Linked DNA regions of Homo sapiens: region 1 is linked to region 2. A link means that fine-mapping ties the variant in region 2 to the expression of a gene that starts in the linked region. Tissue or cell type: whole blood. Region 2 holds a variant in brackets; the other region holds the start of a gene. All regions are shown on one strand. Distances are from middle to middle.

Region 1 (4,000 bases), 120 kb after region 2:
CGTCTCAAAAAACAACAACAACAACAACAAAAAACACTCATATCCATCCTAGAGAAGCGTGAAAATGTAAAAGTTCTTGTTCAAAATTCTTGTCAGGTGGGGCGCGGTGGCTCACGCCTGTAATCCCAGCACTCTGGGAGACGGAGGCAGGTGGATCACCTGAGGTCAGGAGTTCGAGAGCCAGCCTGGCCAACACGGCGAAACCCGTCTCTACTAAAAAATACAAAATTAGCTGGGCTGGTGGCGCGGGCCTGTAATCCCAGCTACGTGGGAGGCTAAGGCAGGAGAATCGCTCGAACCTGGGAGACGGAGGTTGCAGTGAGCCGAGATCGCGCCACTCCCCTCCAGCCTGGGAGACAGAGCGAGATCTTGTCTTAAAATAACAACATTTTTGTCAAAAAAATCTGCAAGTTAAGTTCTTTCATGGTGATCCTCGCAAAATAGCATTTCTCATCCAAAGGCCTCAGAACAGCCGCCAGCCGCCGAGCTAACTCGGGACCCTGTTACCGGCTGCTTGGCGCCCTGGTCGGGTGGGTTTTACCTTCTTCAGGGTCCATTCCTCGCCTCGCCCCCCGTTCCCAACCCTCGGGACACTGGAGACTTGCATTTCACAAACGGGTTTGCTCCAGGCCGCACTCCATCCCCGAGGGAAAGCTCCCCAGAAGTTCTGGAGTTGGGCTGAAGGATGTGATGGCAAGATGTGAATGATGTCAGAATCCCCATCTCCAGAGTCCGGCTGGGGAGCTAAGCGCAGGTGAGCTTACATCAGAAGAGAAAGCCAAACCCCCCACACGTCGCTAAACTAGGGCACGGGAATGGCGTGTTATGCAACGGCCGCCGTTCGCGTGGCCACGAAAGCGCTCCTGCGCCTCGGGCCGCGTCCCGCCAAGACCGTGAGCAAACTCGCAGAGTTGGCGCGGCAGCCGGCCGGGAGACGCCGAGCAGGGCCTGGCCGCCCGCAGCCCGGGAGGAACGGCGCCCCCAGGGTCCGGTGGCCTCTGAGGGGCTGACTGGCCCGTGAGCCGGCGGCGCGGCCGCGGGGAACGGGGTGGGAACCGCGCGGCAGTGGGTGAGGCGGCGCAGCCACCGGGGGCTGAGGGGCGGCGCGGCCTCGACTGCGGCACCGCCGTGGGTCCGTCGGCTCGCGGGACGACGGGGCGGCCGGCGGGGGCCAACAGGGCGGGCTCTGAAGGACTGATTGGCCCGTGGGACGATGGCGCGGCCGGGAGGATGGCCCCGGATCCGTGGGACCGCTGCGCCGCCGGACCGGGGGTCCCGAGGCTGTCAGGGGCGCCCGGCCGGGCGTCTAGTGAAAAGCCGATCCCCCGGAGACAGCGGAAGCAGAGGCGCGCCCGGCGCTACGGCCTTTCGGGTCTAGGACACCGCCCCCGGCCCGCGCCGCCCCTGCCCCGCCGGGATCCCGGCCGCCCCGGTCGCCGCACAACAAAGCGGCGCAGCCCCGCTGCCCCCGCCCGACGCCGGCCTCCAACTTCCCCGGCTCCTCTGGAACCGGCTCCGCGGGCTCCGTACGGCCTGGACTACGAGCCGCCGGGCGGGGGCGGCTCCGGGCGGGCGCGGACCGTGGGGGCAGGGCGCAGGGCTCCGTCCGGACAAACTTCCTCGGCCGCCCCGCCGGGCGCCCTTCCCGGAGCCTCGGCACCACAGTAGGTGCGCGGAGCCGCAGGGCTCGACCGCTTCGCGGAAACTCTCGCCACCCTCCGAGCTGCCGCCCCGACCCCAGCTCCCAGCCCCCTCACCTCCAGGGGCGCGGTCTACACCCTCGGGGGCGTCCTGGCCGGCGGCTCCCGGGCCTCTCGCGCCGGGAGACCGGGCACTGGTGGCTGGAGCTGCTGCTGGCCCCGCAGGGACGGGGGAGCCCCGGGCGGCGGCGGTGGCGTGGACGGCGACTGCTCCATCTTCCCGGGGCGCTCACGCCGCGGTTCCAAAGCGCAGACCCAAGTGGGACATTCGCTACATTGTTGGCATTCCACGGGCGTCACGTGACCCCGCCTCCCGCGTCACTCTCGGCCGCATACCAGTCCGGGCGGGGCGCCTGCGGCCCCTGCTCCTCCGCGGCCGCTCCGCCCAGCCCCGCCCGGCCGTGCTTCCTGCCTCCGGCCTCGACCGCCACCTGCCCACGGCCTCCCTGCTGGCCTGCGGTAGCTCGCCAGGGCCTCTCGGACCTATTTGACTGGCTGCTATCTGCCCCCAAACTTGAGTATTTGCCCTCTCGACTGCATTTGTATTAAAAGTTGGTAACTGTCGTTAAAGCCACTATTCTTAAGTATCTCATACCAGTCTTGGTGAAAGAAAAAAAAAAGTTAGCAGGCCTGAAGGAGCCACCAAGTTACCAACTAGTGGCTGGACACTAAAAATAGGGGCAGAAAAGGACAGACGGCTATTGGGACAGTGGAATCAAACAATTAAGAAGGACGTTTGCCAGAAGCGGTGGCTCACGCCTGTAATCCCAGCACTTTGAGAGGTCTAGGCGGGTGGATCACCTGAGGTCGGGAGTTCGAGACCAGCCTGACCAACTTGGAGAAACCCCCGTCTCTATTAAAAATACAAAATTAGCCAGGCGTGGTGGCTCATGCCTGTAATCCCAGCTCTTCGGGAGGCTGAGGCAAGAGAATCACTGGAACCCGGGAGGCGGAGGTTGCGGTGACCTGAGATCGCATCATTGCACTCCAGCCTAGGCAAGAAGAGCAAAACTCCGTCTCAAAAAAAAAAAAAAAAGAACGTCTGATGCACACCCAAATTTAACCTGATTTAATTTAATCAACCTCCCCTCCCCATGTATATTTTCTTTCTGAGAAGTATTTTATGGTGTAGGGAATAGTATAGTACCGTATATACCAGCAAGTGAGGTCGTGGGTTTTGAACAGCTTCACTATCCATTTGAGGACTGTGGATCTGGTACAGGGACAGAAGCAGGGATGGTGCAAAGATTCACAGTAGAAATAATAGACTGGAAGCCAAATCCTCAGTCTACTTCTGGCTCTCCTAACATCATACTTCCTACCACCTATATCTGTGGCAAGTGATGCTGAGGGTCAATATAGTGTTTAAAGTCAACTCGATTTCCTCTTTAATTGACAAACTCTTGTGAAATTTTTAAATTTTACTCTCATGGGAAACAGTAGTAAAGGTCATTATCTGTGCACTATTTTGACAGTCTCACCCAGCCTTCAGTCCCTGGTTCATCCTCCTCCCCTCCCTCTCTTTCAATCTCTTAAGGCCTCAGCTCTTCCAGGGAATCTTCTCAGATCTCTGTTTTCTCTCTTCTTTGGGCTCTGATAATCAAACCGTAATCCCTTCCTGCCAGCAGAAGTGTGCAAAAAAAAAAAAAAGAAACCATCATCGTGCAGCTTAGAATTCAATTTAATTTTTCGATAGTATCCTGTATGCTACCCAGATATCTTGCACAGTACTGGGAGCAAAATAAGTCTCCAGCCAATATTCTGCAATTGAGCCCTACTGGCATTACCTATGTACTTTTCCACATTTTTTCCTTTTTTTCTTAGAGACAGAGTCTCACTCCATTGCCCACGCTGGAGTGCAGTGGCACAATCATAACTTACTGCAGCCCACATCAGCCTTGAACTCCTGAGCTCAAGCCATCCTCCTGCCTCAGCCTCTAGGGTAGCTGGGAACACAGGCGCACACCACCATGCTTGGCCTTCTTTTCACTCTTAAGCTGACTATACTTTCTCCACCCCAACCCCAAGCCACATGGCTGCTAATCTTTTTTTGTTGTGTGTTTAAAGATCCTGCTCCTGCTCTGCCTTCAAAGATGTAAAAATAATTTTTAAAACACTTGTGGAATGAAAAATATTATAAAATAGATTTAATGGACCTTAAAATTTGTGCATAAAATACCTAATAAAAATGTTGCAGTTACAATGATCATTTCAGCATTGTTTGCAGTAGTGAAAAATTGAGAAAAACCCCAAATGTCCAGTCAAGGGGTAGGAAAATGAAAGGTAGATATCCAAATGAT
Region 2 (4,260 bases):
TCTGCCCGACATGGGTAAGCTGCCTCCATTCCCACTGTCTTCACGGTCACTCAACTGACACGCTCTTACTCACTCCCTGTTCTTCATCTCTTCCAAGGTTTCTTCCCCTGCTTGGGGGACACAGTTGTCCTAATCAACAGCTGAGGCTGAGCCCAAGTCCAACCAGGAGACAGAAGAGTTTCTGTTGGCTGGGGAGGTGAGAAGGCTGGAGAGCTGATTGCGGATCTTGCCTTTCTCGGAAAGCCCAGAGGGGTCTCTAAGGTTCCCAGACACTTCACATTTTTTGTCCAGGGCTTTTGGTTTCAGCTGCAATTCTGGAACATGGGAAAAAAGAAAATCCACATAACATTCTGTTGTACATTTATTCAAAATACAGAAAAGAAATATTTAAAGAATAAAATAAAGATAACATTCACAAGAGGAACCATGAAATTAACCCTCTCCTGGGAGTATACACTGGAAATCAATTTGGAAATATATAACAAGAGCATTAAAAATGTTCTTAAGAATATAATTAAAGATGCAGAAAAAGATTATGTACTCATGATAAAGCTTATACAAGGAAAAGAAAAAGATCATGTATAAAGATATGCAATATGATGTTATTTACAAGGTATATTTACATTTTAAATTATTTAAAATAGGAAATAACCTAAATTTCCAATAACAAGTAAATGGTTAATTAATTTGGGCTATATCATCATAATGGAATATCATATAGCCATTCAAAGCCATTGTTTTATGAGTTTTAGTGACAGGGAAAATGATTACTATAGGTGTCTGTTCACTGTGTTTTCAAAGTGTCCTAAATTTTCTTTTTTTTTTTTTTTTTGAGACGGAGTCTCGATCTGTTGCCCAGGCTGGAGTGCAGTGGCGTGATCTCGACTCACTGCAAGCTCCGCCTCCCAGGTTCATGCCATTCTCCTGCCTCAGCCTCTCCGAGTTGCTGGGACTACAGGCGCCCACCACCACACCCGGCTAATTTTTTATATTTTTAGTAGAGATGGGGTTTCACCATGGTCTCGATCTCCTGACCTCGTGATCTGCCCGCCTCCACCTCCCAAAGTGCTGGGATTACAAGCGTGAGCCACCGCACCCAGACTTTTTTTTTTTTTTTTTTTTTAATTATTTATTTATTTTTTTCTTTTTTTATTTTTTTGAGACGGAGTCTCGCTCTGTCACCCAGGCTGGAGTGCAGTGGTGTGATCATAGCTCACTGTAGCCTTGACCTCTCTGGCTCAAGAGATTCTCCTGCCTTGGCTTCCCAAGTAGCTGGGACTACAGAGGCACATCACCACATCTGGCTAATTTTTAAATTTTTTTGTAAAGACAGGGGTCTCACTTTGTTGCCCGGGCTGGTCTCAAACTTCTGGGCTCAAGTGATCATCCACACACCTCGGCCTCCCAAAGTGCTGGGATTACAGGTGTGAGCCACTGTGCCTCACCTCAATTTTGTAGGATTTTTGTAGGATTTTGATTCCAATCTTTTCTCTGCCACTTATCATTTGTGTGCCCTGAGTGAGTTCCCGTCATCTCGGTATGTCTGTTTTTCATCTGTGCAATAGGGGTCACAGTACCTACCTCATGCTGGGTTTGAGATCTCCGTGTGCCACATATTAGCTTGGGACCTTGGGCTGATTAGTTGTCCTCTCTGAGCCTCAGCTCCCAAGCCAGGAGGTGGAGCTAATGTGGCTGCCTCCAGGCATTAGCACGAAGATGGGCAGGGATGGCTCTGAGCACCCAGCACAGAGCAAGACCCCTTCACCCGGTAGACACCTGGCAGACGGGAATTACCACTGCTTATGATACAATGGTATTTCCTAAATTTGAAGATAATGTTGAAAGTAAGCTGCATCATGGATTTAATAATAGTGCTTTGAGTGAGAGAGAGAGAGAAAAAAGAAACCAATGTGGCATTCAGTGCATAAGAATAAAATGAGGTGTTGAATAAAAAGACTTGGGCCGGGCGTGGTGGCTCATGCCTGTAAATCCCAACACTTTGGGAGGCCGAGGTGGGTGGATTACCTGAGGTCAGGGGTTTGAGACCAGCCTGGCCAACATGGTGAAACCCCGTCTCTACTAAAAATATAAAAATTAGCCAAGCATGGTGGCGTGCGCCTGTAGTCCCAGCTACTCAGGAGGCTGAGACAAGAGAATCGTGTGAACCCACAAGGCGGAGGCTGCAGTGAGTCGAGATTGCCCCACTGCACTCACTCCACCCTGGGTGACAGAGTGAGACTCAAAGAAAAAAAAGTCGAATTTTTATACACATCC[G/A]TTAGGGACTTTTCACATCATGTGCATTTCCATAAATCTACACATTGTATTTTTGCACAGACTTGTGTTTCTAGGTGTGTCTGGGGCTCCAGGATTCTCTTACAGGAGACGACTGTTCAACTTGTTTTTAAATGAAAACACTAATGTTTCGTTTTATTTTTTTCCCTGCATGAAAAGTAACAATCCACCATAAAGCAAGGGGCATGCCCCCCGACCAAGCCATCCTTGCTCAGGGGTAGAGAGTAACCCTTTGCGGGGAGTGGGTGATAGTGCTAAGATTTGGGTTCTGGTTTTAAGGAGTTATCTAAAGTTTAGTTCTGAAAGAAGACGCAAAGGGGATTTCTCATGGAGGAATGCAAGCCTATGGGACAGAAGGCGATGAGTCAGGAATCGTTGGATTGGGTCACCAAAAGCCTGGGTCCTGATCCAGGATGCTTGTCCCAAAAGGGGCCCCACATACTTGATTAAGAAGGAAAGAGTGAGACCACTGTGAGGGGCAACAGTCAAGGATGGGGGGCAGAAGGGGTCTTTGAATCTGAAGCCCACCAGGGGCTGACTGTCCAGCTTTGATGTGAGCAAGAGCCCCTTTGAGGAGCTGCCCAGGCTAGTTCCTTCCACAGTGGCTCAAAGACAGGAGTGCCTGATCTGCTGCCGACTGGCTGGGAGACTGAGATTTGTTGCAGGCCAACTAGTGCATGTGACCCAGTGTCAGATATATCCCCAAAATATCCCTGGCAAGTGGCGGGATGATCTCCTACCCCTTCGCTTGAGCAGGCCGGAGGCCAGGAGCTGAGACTCCTCATTCTCCATTTCTGTTTACCTTCTCCCCAGCTGGGAACAAAGGACAAGAATTTGGGAGTGACAGGCATGTGGCCACACACTCAAATGCACTTGTTTATACCTGTTTGTTTACTGTTTCAGCAGATTCTTGCTTAGCAATAACTGAGTTTATCTCCTTGTCTTAAGGAAACTCTTAAGAATGTTATTATAATGTAGTAAAATTTAAATGTCTCTTGAATGATGAAGCACTAACTAATGTGCTATATCTAAATGTAGAAATGCACATTTACGAGTATTGTCCTCTCCCGGCATTTTCATCTGAACACTCAGTCTGTTGACAACACTCAAAAACTTCATAAAAGATCACAATCTAGCACTTAAGTTCTACAGATAATGTTGAAATCTTGCACAAGATTTAGGAATCTCAGGCAATGACATGCATAACATTGCTATTAGGAAATGTGTAATATACTCTTCTGTTACTATCAGTGGAAAGTCAAAAAACAAACAAACCATAGTGATAAGAGCTGTGTGAATTAAGGAATTTTAGAGCTGAAAGTGACCTTCGAAATCCTAGAGCCTCACCCATTTTTACCTTCTAATAATCGTGCTGTAAAATATCACACTTACACTGTAGAAAATTTGGAAATATACAGAAGATGTTTAAAATTAGGAAGAAAAGGCTGGGCACCGTGGCTCATGCCTGTAATCCCCGCACTTTCGGAGGCTGAGGTGGGCAGATCACAAGGTCAAGAGATCGAGACCAGCCTGGCCAACATGGTGAAACCCAGTCTCTACTAAAAATACAAAAAATTAGCTGGGCGTGGTGGCGCGCGCCACTGCAATCTGACCTAGCGACAGACTGAGACTCAGTCTCAAAAAAAAAAAAAAATCAGGAAGAAAAAAATCACCCACAATTGTATCACCTACAAGAGGTCACCATTTTTTAAAACTTTGCCGTATTTCCTTTCAGACATGTAAAATTTTTGATATATTTATTTTTTTCTTTTTCTTGCTACAAAAAACTGAGATCGTACAGTTTGTATCCTTCACCCTTTACTTAACATTATATAGTGATAATTTTGCTTTTTATTAAAAACTTTTTGAATATGGAATTTTTATTGATTACATAAAATGTGACAGTATGGCATAGAGTCATAAAATATTTGTAACCGTCATCATAGTATTGAATGTGTAATTGCGTTT

The links. PIP is the estimated chance that this variant, and not a neighbour inherited with it, causes the effect.
Region 1: it holds the start of LATS2, and the variant in region 2 is fine-mapped to the expression of LATS2 in whole blood (INTERVAL, PIP 0.98).

Annotation. Positions count from the first base shown.
Region 1 is chr13:21,059,589-21,063,588 of GRCh38, forward strand. It overlaps LATS2 (large tumor suppressor kinase 2), which reads right to left and starts at 1,998. Exons shown (of 8, transcript NM_014572.3): 1 at 1,758-1,998. RefSeq lists an enhancer at 465-1,357 and silencers at 863-1,272, 1,413-2,212.
Region 2 is chr13:20,936,831-20,941,090 of GRCh38, forward strand. LINC00367 (long intergenic non-protein coding RNA 367) reads right to left here. Exons shown (of 6, transcript NR_104058.1): 5 at 3,033-3,105; 6 at 1,734-1,820. Among named protein-coding and RNA genes, the nearest start is that of LINC00367, 10 kb to the right of the region's middle. RefSeq lists an enhancer at 2,770-3,269. The variant G/A (reference allele first, on the strand shown) is at 2,275.